Regions from separate parts of the Homo sapiens genome. Here region 2 is linked to region 1. The links come from fine-mapping of genetic effects on gene expression. Tissue or cell type: whole blood. Region 1 holds a variant in brackets; the other region holds the start of a gene. All regions are shown on one strand. Distances are between the middles of the regions.

Evidence for each region. PIP is the estimated chance that this variant, and not a neighbour inherited with it, causes the effect.
Region 2: ETFA starts here. The variant in region 1 is fine-mapped to the expression of ETFA in whole blood (INTERVAL, PIP 0.94).

What each region holds. Positions count from the first base shown.
Region 1 is chr15:76,177,489-76,185,672 of GRCh38, reverse strand. The region is part of intron 8 of TMEM266 (transmembrane protein 266); the gene reads right to left. LOC101929439 (a long non-coding RNA gene) reads left to right here and starts at 4,187. Exons shown (of 3, transcript NR_120360.1): 1 at 4,187-4,721; 2 at 6,889-7,127. RefSeq lists enhancers at 3,787-3,836, 4,047-4,096. The variant G/C (reference allele first, on the strand shown) is at 3,172.
Region 2 is chr15:76,306,426-76,314,609 of GRCh38, reverse strand. ETFA (electron transfer flavoprotein subunit alpha) reads left to right here and starts at 3,141. Exons shown (of 12, transcript NM_000126.4): 1 at 3,141-3,260. The coding sequence starts at 3,222. RefSeq lists a cis regulatory region at 536-957 and enhancers at 2,519-2,568, 2,629-2,678, 2,888-3,388, 3,389-3,889.

The DNA.
Region 1 (8,184 bases):
TCATTCATCATGCAAGTAAGCAGAAAAACATGTGGTTATCAAGCCATAAAACAGTTAATAGAAGCTGACCTGGGTAAATATTTGAGTGAACAAACAAGGACTTCAAAATAACTACAATTAATATGTGAACAAAAATAGGGGAGAAAGACAGACAAAATGAGCGTAGTGTTTCAGCAGAGAGTTAGACTCTATAAAAAGAATCAAATCAAACTTTTAGAATCTTGATATACAGTATCTGAAATTGAGTAGTTGGTTGGATGGGTTTAACAGGAGATTGGACGTAGTAGGGTTGTTGAAGACAGGTCTATAGAAAAACATCAAAACTTACAGCCATTAAAAAAGGAGACAGGGAGAGAGAGAGAGAATGAATAGTGGAGCAGAGTAGGATCTAAGAGAAACGTGAGACATAATCAAATGGCCTCAGGTACAACTGGAGCTCCAAGAGGAGACGAATGAGACAGGTGCAATGAATAAAGAAACCATGGCCAAGAACTTCCCAAATCTAATAAAAAACATCAATCCACAAATTTAAGAAACTCCTAAGCAGAATAAATACCAAAAAACCCCACAGAAATCCACACAGAAGCACCTTGCAGTCAAACTGCTGAAAACAGGAAGAAACACAACAGGACGGGGCTCCCCAGGGCTCACACGGGCCTGTGCCTTAGGAAAAGAAGGTGCACAGTGGCTCCGATGAAGCAAATCTTCCATTGGCAAATGGGCCCGGTGGGAAAAAAAGACCATCCCTAGGCTTGGGAAGAATTAAAGTGCAGTCACAGCCCCATTTAGTGCACATCATTAGCTAAGTATTTCTAATCAGATAACCTGCCCAGATCATCTGGGATCCACAGGGAAGCCCGCAGTATGCATTACTGGAGTGAGTCAGGCCCCTTCCATCGGGGCCGGGCTTTTAATGCAAGCCCAGGAGGGGTCAGACCCACCGGGGCGGCAGGACGGGCACACCCAGCGCTTCTCCGCCTTTAATGGTCCGGTTGTGGAGTCCAATTGACACGGGCCTTGTCCTGATCAATGCACACTTTGGCCAGAAGCTCGATGGTATCTAATGCAATAGCAGTAATTCTGCTCCATCCTATTAGTGCTGTCTGCACAGGCTGCCCTGCCTTCAAACCCATCTGCTGTTGGGATAGCATCCAATGTTTATTTCCATTAGTTTCACCGTTGTTGGTAACAATAAAAATCAGGAGACAGTTGCAAACTAATGATTTAGGAGCAGAGTAAAGCTGAGATCGACCTTGGCCCCTTTCCATCCACTGTGAAGATGACTGGTAGTTGGCCATAAATTTAAATTATGGCAAAAGGATAACATAAGTTATTCCTCTGATGGCTGATTTTATCAGCTAAATAGGCTTGTCATTAAAGCTATCGGCTGTTTTACAAATCACTTCCCATCTTAAAAAAAATTTCACTTCCCACAGTGGAGATCCTGAATAATCCAGGTAACAAAGGCTATTGTGCTGAGCTGGGAACTTGTGGCCTCTGTAGGAAAAGAAGGAGCTCTCTGGAATGAGCCAGCCTCAAGCCCCGTCCCTGGAGCCAGCATGGAACCACGGCTTTATTCCTGCTATTCCTGCCCTTTGGCCCCTTTTCTGAGCTGCTAGCCCAGCCTCAAAGGCGAGTGACCTACGCAGAGCCGTTGGCATTCTCTCAGGGGTCCAGAAAACCAGGGGACAATGGGGTCCAGCGAGAGGCCTGGATGGGGAGATGGGCCCTGGCTCCCAATCAGACCACCCACCACCTCCCACGTCTGCTCCGGTTCCTCCACGTGAAAGACAGCGAAGGGGATGGAGGGGGGGCGTGACAGCTTCCTCTCCTCACATCTTCCTCCATCAGAAATGCCTACAGCTTGCAGGGTCAAGATTATCATCTTGTTTCTTCAGGAAAACAGGCCAGGGAGGCATGGCATTCCCCCAGGAAGGACTTTGATAAGTGTGGCTGTGCCGCCTGCTGTGGTGGAACCGGGGAAAGGGTAGGGAATGTTGTGAGCCCATTGGCCTTGTTTTATGGGTTGGGTGACTGTGCAGGCGACTGTTTTCTTCTTGGGCACAAAGACCACTTCTGACAGCATCTGGTGCCCCTAGTTGGTACTGTGCAACTGACTCTTGCCAATAAAACGGGGGCAGAGCAATATCACCATTTTCAGTCCTGGCCAATAAAAACCTGCTGTGCCCAATTCCCCAGCCTCACTTTCCTATCCACTGACTGGAGAAGACTCCGAGGACTTGGAGGAAGAAGGATCGGCCGGGCTTGGTGGCTCCCACCTGTAATCCCTGCACTTTGGGAGGCCGAGGTGGGTGGATCACTTGAGGTCAGGAGTTCGAGACCAGCCTGGCCAACATGGTGAAACCCCATCTCTACTAAAAATACAAAAATTAGCCAGGGGTGGTGACACATGCCTGTAATCCCAGCTACTCGGGAGGTTGAGGCAGGAGAATCGCTTGAACCCAGGAGGCAGAGGTTGCAGTGAGCCGAGATCATGTCACTGCACTCCAGCCTGGGCCACAGAGCGAGACTCCATCTCAAAAAAAAAAAAAAAAAAAAAAAAAAAAAAGCCACAAAATGGAAGCAGCCTGGAGGCCTGAGTGACTTGTGTGGAACAGAGGGTCCCTCCACCCTGCCCCATTGCAACCTGCATTGGAGTATGATGAGAGTGACAAATGTACTCCTCCTGTGTCAGGACTCAGATTTCTGGATTTGCTGGATGCAACAACTGGTGTTACTCACCCTAACTATCAGTGACTCAGGCAGATGCCTCTTTCTGGCGCAGGGAAATGGACACTGAAGCCCTGGGTTTCTTTCCTAGTCCCTCCATGAAAAACTACAGGATCTGGCCAAAGAATAGCCTCTCTGAGCCTCAGTCTTTCCATGTGAAGGGATTAATAGTACCCAGCCTGCCAACTTTCACCAGCAAAGGAAAAATGAGCTAAAACATGACAGTGCATTTGTGAATGAGCAACCATCATATAGATACATTTAGTAGTTTTTTTTGTTTTGTTTTGTTTTGTTTTTTTGTGACTGAGTCTCGCTCTGTCACCCAGGCTGGAGTGCAGTGGCATGATCTCGGCTCACTTTAAGCTCTGCCTCCCAGGTTCATGCCATTCTCCTGCCTCAGCCTCCTGAGTAGCTGGGACCACAGGCACCCGCCACCACACC[G/C]GGCTAATTTTTTATATATATTTTTTTTTAGTAGAGACGGGGTTTCACCGTGTTAGCCAGGATGGTCTCGACCTCCTGACCTCGTGATCTGCCCGCCTCGGCCTCCCAAAGTGCTAGGATTACAGGTGTGAGCCACCGCACCCGACCTCTCTCTTTTTTTTAACCCTTACTGAAAGCCTCCAGCAGGCCAGATTTAATTTGATGCATATGGCATCCACACGATGTAGGCCTTGTTACCTCCAATTTCCCCAATGAGAAGCTGAGGCTCAGGGGTTAAAGGGAAGATGACTGGTCACTGGTGGGGCTGAGGTTTGAATCTGGCTTGCTGGCTCCCCGAATAAGAGGATTCTTTCCACTCCTCCAAGCTCCCCGACAAGGGACTCACCTTTCCCAAGGTCTAAGGATGTCCTAAGGGGCTCACAGGTCCCACTGGTCTCCTTGGAGGCTGGACCTTGAGTCACCCCGGATTGAGCCTCATATCCCTCAGTATTTTGCCAATGATCTCAGGGTGAATGGTGCTGAGGAAGCAGAACGTCAGAGAAGAGAAACTAACTTCCACAGTGGGCCAGGTCAGATCATACTATTTTGTACCAAAAGCTGTTACCAGGCTTAAACATGAAAGAGCGGGTGTAACGGAGACTTCAGAATGTGTTTCGGAACTAGAGCGAGATCCCACGCATGGAGGTACATAAAACCTCAGAGGTGGTTTCGTGAGATGAGTCAGAAGAGTATATCGTTGCATTGATTTAACTGCTGCATCTAAAATGGCTTTGGTTTCTGAAGCAGCCAAGACAGAGAGAGAGACAAGGCATCCACACCGTCTCTCTGAAGGGCAGCCTCTAGCATCGTGACTTTGGACTCCATCTGTGTACCAGCGAGCCTAACTCGTCATGAAATTCTGGCCAAGATCCACCCCTCACCAAAAACAAACAAACAAACAAAAAGAATGGAAAAGAACTTCCACCTAAGGAATTGAGGAATTGCTGAATTCAGGGGTCAGAAGCCATGTGCTTCTATCACAGCAGCGGGGAGTCTGGAAGGGACTGCAGAAGGCATGGCCAGGGCTTTGGAATGGTATGACTGACCAGCAGAGAGACCTCCTCCCCTCCCGGGATCCTCTAGGCACCCCTCCCCAAGTAGGAATCTGTTAAGCATGAGGTGTGTCCACAACCAGAAGAGATCATAGGAATGAGGGAAGCAGTGAAGCCTGTTTCCCTGTCAAAGCCAGAGGGCCAGTGTGATCCAGGAGGGAAGGCACTGGAATGAGCAACAAGAGACCTGTTTTCGTCCTGGCCTCATAACTGCTGTGCCACGTTGGGCCCACCTCTCCCTTTCTCTGAGCCTCAGATGCCCCATCTGCCAAATCCTGGATTGGGCCAGCTGCCCTCCCCAGGGACCTTTCATCTGTTATATAAGGTGATTCTGGAGCACCTTGCATGTGGGCCTGTGACAAGAAATGAACTGCCATGTAGCACAGAAGGTGAAATGAATCAGATATTCATGCAAGAAACTGGCCAACAGGCTCACCTGAGAGTCTCCACAGGGTCACGGTAAGAAGCAATGTAATCTTTCTTAAAAAGTTAAGATGGGCTGGGTGCGGTGGCTCATGCCTGTAATCACAGCACTTTGGGAGGGTGAGGCGGGTGGATCACCTGAGGTCAGGAGTTTGAGACCAGCCTGGTCAACATGGTGAAACCCCGTCTCTACTAAAAATACAAAAATTAGCTGGGCATGGTGGCAGGTGCCTGTAATCCCAGCTACCCGGGAAGCTGAGGCAGGAGAATCTCTTGAACCCAGGAGGTGGAGGTTGCAGTGAGCCAAGATGGCGCCACTACACTCCAGCCTGGGTGACAGAGTGAGACTCTGTTCCAAAAAAAAAAAAAAAAAAAAAAAAGCTTAAGATGAAGAAACAGAGAGTAACTGTGCAGTGGAGACACCTGACCCACGCTGCCCCAGCCGGGTGATCCAGGCCGCATCACAGTGAGAAGTCACGTGGCCAGTGTGTCCTCTTGATGTGAGACAATAAGAATGGCACTTTCCTTCTGCAGTCTTCCTCCCAAAACCCACAACCCCAGGCTTACCCTGGGAAAAACATCAGACGAATCCCAACAGAGGGGCATCCTGTAAAACAAAAACACCCGACCAGTGCTCCCCAAAACCCTTCAGGTCATCAGAAACAAAGTCTGAGAAATTGCCACAGCCAGGAGGAGCCTAAGCCTACTGAATGCGACGTGGAGCAAACAGAGGACATAACAGATTAAATACTAAGAAAACCTGAGTACCGTATCAATGTGGGTTTGTTCATTGTAACAAATGATACTAGTGTATGATGTTAATGATGGGCAGCCAGGCACAAGGGATACAGGGAACTCTGCACCTGCTTCACTATTTTTTGGTCAATATAAAACTGTTCTAAAAAATAAAGTTTATTTTTTTAAAAAGAGCTGGGTGAAGTTGTGGCAAATAGTTGAAATAGTTGTACAAACACACCCCAGCAAGAGAGCAAGGGAGTGAAAAGCGTTTTGTTTTGTTTTGTTTTGTTTTGTTTTAGAGACAGTCTTGCTCTGTGGCCCAGGCTGGAGTGCAGTGGTGTCATTACAGCTCACTGCAGCCTCAAACTTCTGGCCTCAAGCAGTCCTCCTGCCTCAGCCTTCCAGAGCACTGGGATTACAGGTGTGAGCCATCGCGCCAGGCCAGGTGTTGTATTTAAACTGGGACCCTAACACATTTCATTGGTAAATGTCAATTTTTCAGGCAGCATATGTGAATTCAGTTTGGAAATGTCTTCATTATACTCTGAGAATTCCAGCAAGGAGACAGCAAGAGTTTGTCACAAGGAATACTAGACTGTCCTGGAACGGGGTTGGGGGCTGCCATTGAGACAGCTGAGGGGAGCCAGGTCTGTGCCTGCAGTATAAAATACCCCATGCATAATCTGATCAATGTTTTTGCTGAGTGCTAAGTGCCATGAGTAGGAAAAAGGAGGCTCAACGTGATGGGCTGGAAAAGAACAGTGTTCACAGTTAGGACACCTGGTTCTATGCCCCCCTGGACTAGCTGTGTGCCCCCAAGGCGAGCTGCCACTGCTCAGTTTTCTTATTTGTAAAATGGGTGTGTGGGGCAGGTGTGGTGGGGCTGGTGGACTTCGGGGTCCACACCCATTAGTTGCTACCCATCATGTGTCAGGCTTTAGGCTACGATCTCATCACCATCCTTCGAGGATTCTATTACTACACCCATTTTTCAGATTAGGAAAACCAAGGCCCATAGATGTCCCATTAATGCCCAAAGCCACAAGGCCAGTAAGTGTTCTAAAGAGAGACACACCTGGGTTCGAAGCCAGCTCAAAGTCTATTTAGAACCAAGTCTATTCTCAACCATTCCATGGGCTGCTGTCTCCAAGGGTCTAGCCATCTCTGACATTCCAGGGCCCACAGTCTCATTTCCTCCAGGGTATCTGTTACCCAGTCAAGTCTCAAACCAGGTCTGAAAATACAGCTGCAAGTGAGGCATCTGTCTGCTTCGCTCTGTGGAGTGGGCACCACAGACTCCAGGAGAGCTGCCCTCCTGGTCCCTCTGGCCAGGCAGCCCCCACCCTCCCCGGTGGCCCCACTGGGAGTCCAGCCTGTCTGGCCCTTTCTGCTGTCTTAACTAAGATGACAGGCTTCAGGTGTTTTTTAAATTAAAATGGTTCGTTTCTGTTCATCTCTTTTCCAGATGTCGCTACCTAGAGGGAATCTGTCTTTATTTATTGGCTCTTTCCTGTGCAGAATGCAAGGGAGTCTCCCTCCGGCTGAGACCCCCGGGAAGGAGGCCACATGTGGAGGTGACTTGAACCAGGACGGCAGGAACCTGGGGTCCCCGGGGGGCTCCGGACAGAGGTCATGGTGGAAACCCTGGGAGGTGGGGTTGCCGTTAGGATTTTCTCCTGGCCACGTGGCGCATGTGTGGCTGAGGTGAGGTGTGCGGCAGGGTCAGCGCGTTCCCTGCTGGGCTGGGAGGCTGCGAATTTATGAGGGGCGGATGCAGCCCTGTGTCCGTGTCTTTCACGTTGCCAACTGCAGTGAAGTAGAGCATTTGTTTTCCTGTTCAACAGCAGAATGAGAACTGCCTGATCGGCTTCCAGTCGCTTTCTGGATGACACCCTGCACTTTACTTTCCCCACTTCCCTGCAGCCCCCTCTGCCTAAAGCCCAGCTTCTCTCACCTTCTTCTCCAGCCTCTGTCCCCAGTCTTCCTGTCTCCACCCTGCCCTCTCCATCCAGCCTCCAACGGCAGCCAGAAGGCTCCATCAACAACTCACATCTGAGCAGATCCCCCAGTCCTGCTTTTAATCCTCCAGGCTTCCTCTGTCCCAGCAGGATAAAGCCCAAACTCTCTGGTCAGCCACAGAGCCCCTTCCCAAGCCTGTCCCCAATCCTACTGCCTCCCTCTGCTCACCCTCTAAATGGCCCCGAACCCCGGGGGCACTGCACCCACTCGCACACCCCACACTGTTCCCTCTGCCTGGCAGCCTTCTCCCCAGGGCTCTGCTCCACATCAGCTCCTCTGGAAAGCCTTCCCCATCCTGGCCTGCAGAGCCCGGGACGTGCCCATGTGATACAGGCATTGCACCAGATTTCCACTGCCTATTTATGGGCTGCCAAACCCCCTGAGTCACCCAGAGCCCCGTGAGGACGAGGGTCACACCCTGTCCTAGGCGGCATCCACATGCCCGGCACAAGCCCAGCACAGAGCAGCTCTGGACGGTGCTGGCTAACCACGCGATATGGCAAGAGAATGAATGAAGCTGATGCCAGCTCCTCAGGAAGGGAATGCTTCTCTTCCTAGTCTAGGATTCCATAGCCTGCCCTGCTCTCGGGACACCTTGGACAACGTGCCCCTGAGGGCCATGTCCCCTGATGACCCCTCTTGTCACGCATAGGCATTCTGTGCGAAACAAAAGGTCATAGTGTTCCCAAAGCAGATAAAAAGATTGGTTTCCTGACAGACATTCCGAGGGGATGATTCTGAA
Region 2 (8,184 bases), 130 kb before region 1:
TTGCACCTAGCCCATTGGACACATATTTCTACAAATGTTTGCTGAACATCTAAAAATAAGAAGCAAATAAATAGGCTGGACACGGTGGCTCACGCCTGTAATCCCAGCACTTTGGGAGGCCACGGCAGGCAGATCACCTGAGGTCAGGGCTTTGAGACCAGCCTGACCAACATGGTGAAACCCCATCTCTACTAAAAATACAAAAATTAGCTGGGCATGGTGGTGGGCACCTGTAATTCCAGCTACTTGGGAGCCTAAGGCAAGAGAATCCATTGAAACTGAGGGGAGGTGGAGGTTGCAGTGAGCCGAGATCGCGCCACTGCACTCCAGCCTGGGTGACAGAGTGAGACTCCGTCTCCAAAATAAATAAAATAAAAATAAGTAAATAAAAGGAAACCATAGGTCCTGCCACCAAAGCGGCTCCTAATGGAGTGGGAAAGTCATATGCCTCTAGGGAAAATCTTCTAATAGAAATGTCTTAGCACACACATTTCTGTGGTACATAACCTGGTTGTGATTGTAGAACCCTGATACATCCCAAAGCCTCAGGGGGCGTTTCATGTGTGATCAGAACAGGTCTGGTCAGGTGTCACAGACTTTGCCCATTTTTAGCCTCTCCCTCTGCTCTGAACTGCTCCACCAGGAACCCCCAGGGGCAACGAGACTCTGGGGTGAACAGCTGCTGCTGATTTGCCCAAGCCTGGGAGCTGTTGAATCTGCCCAGTGGGGGCAGGGCGGGGCAGCCGCTCTCCCCTTGTATTTCGCTTTGTCATGGGTGGGGAGGTAGGGAAGGAGGTTAGTTTGTATCCCAGTTTTTTATATGGTTTTTAGTAAAATATCCTTTTCTGTTTTTACTAAAAGTACCCTTCCCTCTTCCTTCCACTCCCATAGGTCTCAGATTCTAGTCCAGTGTGGGACTGGTTAGGAGGTAAATGCAGTGAGACATGGAATACTAAATTGCCCCTCCCACAGGCAGATTGACTGGGGGACAGGGGTCCACAGCTCTGTCGGCAACATGAGTTCAGACGTGTTCGAAGTGGGTGCAACTTAAGTTTAAGATGGGTCCTCACCTCCTTGTTCATAGAGCTACAAGAGTGAAGAAGAGGAAAGGATTAATTCATCCTGCAGAATTGAGAAAGAGCTTACAAAAGAAATGTCACTTGGGCCAGGCGTGGTGGCTCATGTCTGTAATCCCAGTACTTTGAGAGGCCAAGGTGGGAAGATCACTTGAGGCCAGGAGTTCGAGACCAGCCCTGGGTAACCCTGCCCCTACAAAAAAAAATAGCTGGGCATGGTGGCACATGACTGTAGTCCCAGCTACTTGGGAGGCTGAGGCAGGAAGATTGCTTGATCCCAGGAGTTCGAGACTGCAGTGAGCTGTGATGGCACCACCGCACTCCAGCCTGGGAAACAGAGTGAGACCTTGTCTTAAACAGAACAAAAGAATTGTCACTTGATCTGGGTTTTAAAGAGGGCTGTCAGATGGGGAAGGGAATTTCAGACAGAGGGAAGAGCAAAAGCGCAAGGCCCTTAGAGTGCTTGTTAGTTCAGACAAAGCTCTTGCTTCAGGGAATTTACACTCCAATGCAGTGAGATCAGCAATAAACAAACATGTGCATCCTGTTAGGCAGTGATAAATGCCAAGAAAAAAAATCAAACAAGGTGATAGGGCGTCTGGGAGTGGCATGGGTGCTATTTTAGGTGGAGAGGCTAAGGCCGGCCTTTCTGCAAATGTGTTTTTTGAGCAGAGACCTGAATGAAGTGAGGAAGTACGCCACGCGGGTAACAAGAGAAGGCCATTTCAGGCAGAGGGAAGAGCCAGAGTGCAAAACTCTGAGAGGAGCAGGCTTGTGTGCTCAAGAAGGCCTATGTATCTGGGGAACAGTGAGAGAAGAGGGCAGTGGGAGGAGAGGGAGCCACCATAGGGCTTTGAGCAGAGGTCATGATCAGTCCATCAGTTTGGAGAAGAGGCTTCTGGAAACATGGGCAGAAACAGAAAGACCAGTTAGGAGGCTTTGCAATGATCCAGGCGAGAGAGGACAGGGTCCTGAGTGAAGGTGATACCAGCAGAGGAGCAAAGGGGTGTTGGAGGATATTGCTGGATTCTGGTTATCTTTTGAAGGTAGAGTCAACGGGATTTGTTGATAGACTAGATAACATTGGAAAGGTAGGTTGTTGCTGAATTGGGAATTGAGACAATTTCTGAACATACCACTTCCCTCTTAAAAATTTCGTGTTAAAGTCCAGACTCATTAGCAGTCATTTATTCATTTGCTTATTCATTCAACACATACTGATTGAATGCCTAGTATGGACCAGGCATTGTGCTAGGTGTTGCAGGTAGACACAAAATTTAAAAGTAGGGCATACTGGCCGGGCGCGGTGGCTCACGCCTGTAATCCCAGCACTTTGGGAGTCCGAGGCGGGCGGATCACGAGGTCAGGAGATCGAGACCATCCTGCCTAACACTGTGAAACCCCGTCTCTACTAAAAATACAAAAAAATTAGCTGGGCGTGGTGGCGGGCGCCTGTAGTCCCAGCTACTCGGGAGGCTGAGGCAGAAGAATGGAGTGAACCCGGGAGGCGGAGCTTTCAGTGAGCTGAGCTCGCGCCACTGCACTCCAGCCAGGGTGACAGAGGGAGACTCTCTCTCTCTCAAAAAAAAAAAAAAAAAAAAGGGCATACTTTCTGCCCTTACAGATCTTCAGTCAGATGGGTGACACAGACAAGTACTTAGGTTATTACAACCCATGTGACAATTGCTACCATGGGGAAATACAGGGGGAAATAGGGGCATATAGGAAAGGTATCTAATTGGAATTGGCAAGGCTCCACTCGTACCTTACCCCGAGGTCAGCTCAGTTTTGAAGTTCACTCTAGCAGTGCTGACCATTGCGGGGCTGTGAGACAGTACAGTCTGAGCTCGGTCATCAGCGGGTGGCCAGCTTTGTCTCTGCCGCTCCGCGGCCCGGGCTTACTCGAAGGTCCCCGGGGAATAGCCTCACCTTTGCCCCACTTCCCAGTCTAGCCCCTAACTTCCCGCCGTCTATTGGCTGCGCAGCCGCCCAATGGGCAGGCGGAAACCGCGGGCTCGTGCTCCCGGCCTAGGGCGTCTTATCTCGTTCGCGCGTCTCGCGAGCATTAGGTGACTGGCTGAGGCGGCGCCAGTTGGCCGGGCACGGGGCTGCTGTAAGGCCGAGGTTGCGGCGGAAGCGGAGACCATGTTCCGAGCGGCGGCTCCGGGGCAGCTCCGGCGGGCGGTGAGTCCGGACTGGGAAGGCGAACCCAGGGACGGCCCCCCGTCAACCCGCCGTCCCTATGGGGTCTTGCAAAGATCACTGGCCCCCTCAGATTCGACCAGCCCTCGCGCCCGCAGGCCGGTCCCCGCCTGGGACTTGGGTCCAAAGTTCTGGGGCCTACCCTGGACTCCCTGCGGAACGCCAGTTCGGGGCAGAAGTCAGAGGTTTGGGGTCAGGGTGACCCCGAATGATGTGAATTTGCGCGTCTGCTGCCCCTTCTTCTGGCCCACTCTCTGCCCTGCCGTTTCCCACCTTTGTCGGTCACTCTGGGCACTTTCGGGCCGCCAGGTCCTCCACACTTGCTCCACACCCGAGGGAGCAAAATGTCACCGGGGAATGCCCTGTTGGGGAAAGTTTCAAACCTAGATTCCTCCCGGAGGCCGGCATTTCTGGAAGAATTAAACACTTTGGGCGCATCGTGGCTACTCCGACCCACTCACTGTCAAGGGCGGGGGTGGGGTGGGGTGGGAGGCTGCGTGGCCAGTTATGGAAGCTGGTTCTGCTTTCTGGTTTATGGAGCAGGGCTGAATTTAGGTGATTGTATTTGTAAAACCTGCGATCCGATTTGACAGCTTTAGCCAGTTTTGAAAGGCAGACGTCTTTTTATATGCTTCAGGCTGACCTGCTTTTAACCAGCAGATTGTAGATTAGGTTAACTGGTGACAGTGGTACATTTTCAGTGTTTCATTAGTGACAAACCACATTTCTCTCTTCTGTTGTGAGAAGGACTGATAGGAAACATATTTTCCTTCTCATGCTGTGGGAAAGGAGTATTTGGAGACTGACCAGTCACAAGTCAAGTAACAATAATTTATATTGTGGATTGTGTAGTTTTCCTAGTTTACATTTAGGTGAAATGAGAAACAAGATTGGTAAACTTGGGTCAGAAACTTACCTGATGGTTTGTACCTTTTCTCCTTTTTTTTTTTTTTTTTTTTTTTCTGGGCATGGATATTTTCCCATCCACTCCTGGGATTTTTCTCTCTGAGGCATAGCTGGAGCTCTTTCTAGATGTCTGTAGACATTAGACTTTTGTTTGTTTGTTTGTTTGTTTGTTTAAGAGACAAGGTCTGGCTCTGTTTCCCATGCTGGAGTGGAGTGCAGTGGCACGATATGGGCTCACTGCAACCGTCGCCTCCCAGGTTCAAGCGATTCTCCCACCTCAGCTTCCCGAGAAGCTGGGATCACAGGTGCGCATCATCACGCCTGGCTAATTTTTTTTTTTTTTTTTTTTTTTTTTTTGTAGAGACGGGGTTTCCCCATGTTACCCAGGCTGGTCTCGAACTCTTGTCCTCAAGTGATCCACCTGCCTCGGCCTCCCAAAGTCCTGGAATTACAGGCCTGAGCTACCGCACCTGGCCTTAGACATCTTTTTTCTTGTGCGTATTCCTTGTTTAATAAAAAGTTCTGACCCTCCCCTCCCCTAAAGAGTTCAAACCCATGTCTTTCAGGTTAGTGTCCTGTCTTCCCCTCAGGACATGTTTTCTCCCGGTTGGGGATCTAGACATAAACAAGTGAAAATCATGAATTTGGGGAAATTCCAGGAACCTGAGCCAGAAGAATGCTGCTCTATGCAGCAGTTGGAAAACAGTTTTGTGGACAGATTACAAGTCTGGCCTAAGTGAAATTATAATTGTGGTGGGGGATGGAATTTAGGACTCAGTAATTTTGTAGAGCTAACAGAAAAAAATGGAATGATTAAGTAATTTTTACTATCCACATCGTTGGCTAATGTGTATAGACATTACTTCCAGATATTCATTGTGGTTTGCCAAAGACTTTGACCTTGACTTATTTTTAAAATTTGAAGTCAAGCTAAGTAGAATAGCTGTTTTTTTTGTTTGTTTGTTTGTTTGTTTTGAGACGGAGTCTCGCTCTGTCGCCCAGGCTGGAGTGCAGTGGCGCGATCTCAGCTCACTGCAAGCTCCGCCTCCCGGGTTCACGCCATTCTCCTGCCTCAGCCTCCTGAGTAGCTGGGACTACAGGTACCCGCCACCACGCCCCGCTAATTTTTTTGTATTTTTAGTAGAGACGGGGGTTTCACTGTGTTAGCCGGTATGGTCTCGATCTCCTGACCTCATGATCCGCCCGCCTTGGCCTCCCAAAGTGCTGGGATTACAGGCGTGAGCCACCGCGCCCAGCCTAGAATAGCTGTTTTAAAGTCATTAAGAATGTTGGAGAGATTTGGATTTCTAGCATAAAAGAAATGGTGGCAACACTTCTAAAGTGGACCCATATATTAATAGGGACATATACCTGTATTTAACTTTTTAAATTTTGAAATAGTTGCACTTATAGAAAAGTTGCAAGAATAGTACAAAGAAATCTCAAAACCCTTCCCCTGGTTTTCCCAGCATGTTAGCAGTTTGACACATTTGCTTTATCTTTCCACATATATACATAATACTATCTTTCTGAACCATTTGAAAGTATGTTGCAAATGTGCCCTTTACTCCTAAATAATTGAGTGATATTTTAAAAGAACAAAGAGGTTCACTTTCTAACTACACTGTAATTGGCAATATCTGGAAGTTTCACCATAAAATACTGTTTTCTAATCTATGGATGTTCAATTTTGCCAGTTGTCCCATTAGTACAGTTTATAGCAATTTTCCTTATTCTGGTCTAAGATACTCTAGATGTCCTGCAAGTGGTTTTCATGTCTCTTTACTCTGTTAGAAAGGTTCCTCAGCCTTCCTTTGGGTTTGATGACATTGGTGTATTTGAAGAGTACAGGCCTTCTATTTTCCAGACTGTCACTCAATTTGGGTTTGTCTGGTGTTTCCTCATGATTAGATTCAGGTCATGTATTCTTGGTGGGAATATCACAAAAGTGGTATTGTGTTCCCCGTGCATCATATTAGCAGGTACTTAATGTTGGTTTATCCCATTAGTGGTAATGCTGACTTTAGTTACTTAGCCAAAGTGTTGTTTGCCAGGTTTCTCCACTGTCAAGTTAATACTCCTCCTTTTGTAATTTTTAACTAATTTGTGAGGCGATTCATTGAGACTATGTGACTGTCCTATTTCTCATCAGACTTTTACCCAGTCTTAGCATCTGTTGATGATTTTTGCCTGAGAAATGATTACTATGATGCAAAATGGTGATTTTCTATTTCCATGATACCTTCGTACATTTTTTAGTTATTCTACTATAAGGAAGAACATTATCTTCTTGCATATTTATGGATTTATGGATACATGGATCCTTATTTAGGATAATACATTTCTACCTTATGCTGAAGTTGTCTCATGTTTGTAAAGTGGGGCCCATTCAATCTGACTCCTGTTTGTTTACATATATATGTTTGTGATATCACAAAGTCAAAATAGCTTATCTCAAGTCCCCACTCTTGAAATTAAAAAAAAAATGTTCTGTAGCTAACCATTAATGCATTTAGGAAGAGGATACATTTCCAAAACCATATTTAAAAAAATAAAGTTAGGAATTACAGTTAAAAGATTACCATAAACTGTTAACGATGTGCATATAGTTAACACTTAACACTTAAAAATGGTTAAGATGGGGCCAACCATGGTGGCTGACACCTGTAATCCCAGCACTTTGGGAGGCTGAGGCAGATGGATCACCTGAGCTCAGGAGTTCGAGACCAGCCTGCGCAACATGGCGAAACCCCATCTCTACCAAAAAAAAAATTAGCCAGGCGCCATGGTTCACACCTGTAGTCCCAGCTACTTGGGAGGCTGAGGCACGAGACTTGCTTGAACCTGGGCATTTGAGGCTGCATTGAGCCCAGGTAGCACCACTGCCCTCCGGCCTGGGCAACAGAGTGAGACGCTGTTTCAAAAAAAAAAAAAAAGGTTAAGATGGTAAATTTTATGTATTCTTTTAAACCACTTTGTTAAACTATTAGGATATAAGTTCAATGACTTGCATTTGGTATCTAAGTTCCATTTTTAGTTCTGACTGATTTGTGCCATTGAGTAAAGTCTTTCATCCTTATGTGTGTGGCAATGGTCTTTAAAGTCATCTGTTAACAAAGATAGTTTTTATATCTATAATAAAGAGCTAGAGAACACACCAAGAGGCAAATAGGTAGGCATTTGCAGTTAGTTAATATTCTTGCAGGGATATTAATCCTAATTATTGTTATTTATTAATTTGCTCTTGAAATTGATTTATTGAAGAATAAGAAGATGCAGAAAAATATTTATGTGGTGAGTGAAACAACAATTTCAAGGTCATTTGAGTACTCTTTTTACTGTGTTTATTGTCAGGTGGGAAGGAATATCTATCAGGACTGAGAAGCTATGAAACTGGTGTGAAGGAACATGACACTTTTCTGTCTAGTATTGATGAATAAGATTGAACTCTGTAATTTGCATGCAAATTTTAATTTCTATTGAAAGAAGAAAGAGAGCCAATTTTGGTGTGATTCTAAAAGAAAATTTATTGCATAAGGTGAATTCAGTAAAATTATGATGCCTGCCAATGTGTCTACTAAGAGTCTTGTCCTTTCTTAAAGTGAAGTAAATTGACTGTGTTTTTAGTATTACAGTCAATGTCATATAACATTTCTGGTCATGATTAAAAGCTGCTATATTTTATTACTAAAAGGATTAAAGGAAGTATTTAAAGTACAGAAATATACATTTTAAAAATTACAAAATGTATGTTAAAATAGGGATAGGTGACTTTATATATTATCCTTTTGGGTATGACTCAGAAAGATTTTATAGCTTATTCTTGCTGTTTTTCTTTTTTTAATTAAGAAGCAAAAAAACCGGCTGGGTGCAGTGGCTCATGTCTGTAATCCCAGCACTTTGGGAGGCTGAGGTGGGTGGATCACGAGGTCAGGAGTTTGAGATTAGCCTGACCAACATGGTGAAACCCGTCTCTACTAAAAATACAAAAATTAGCTGG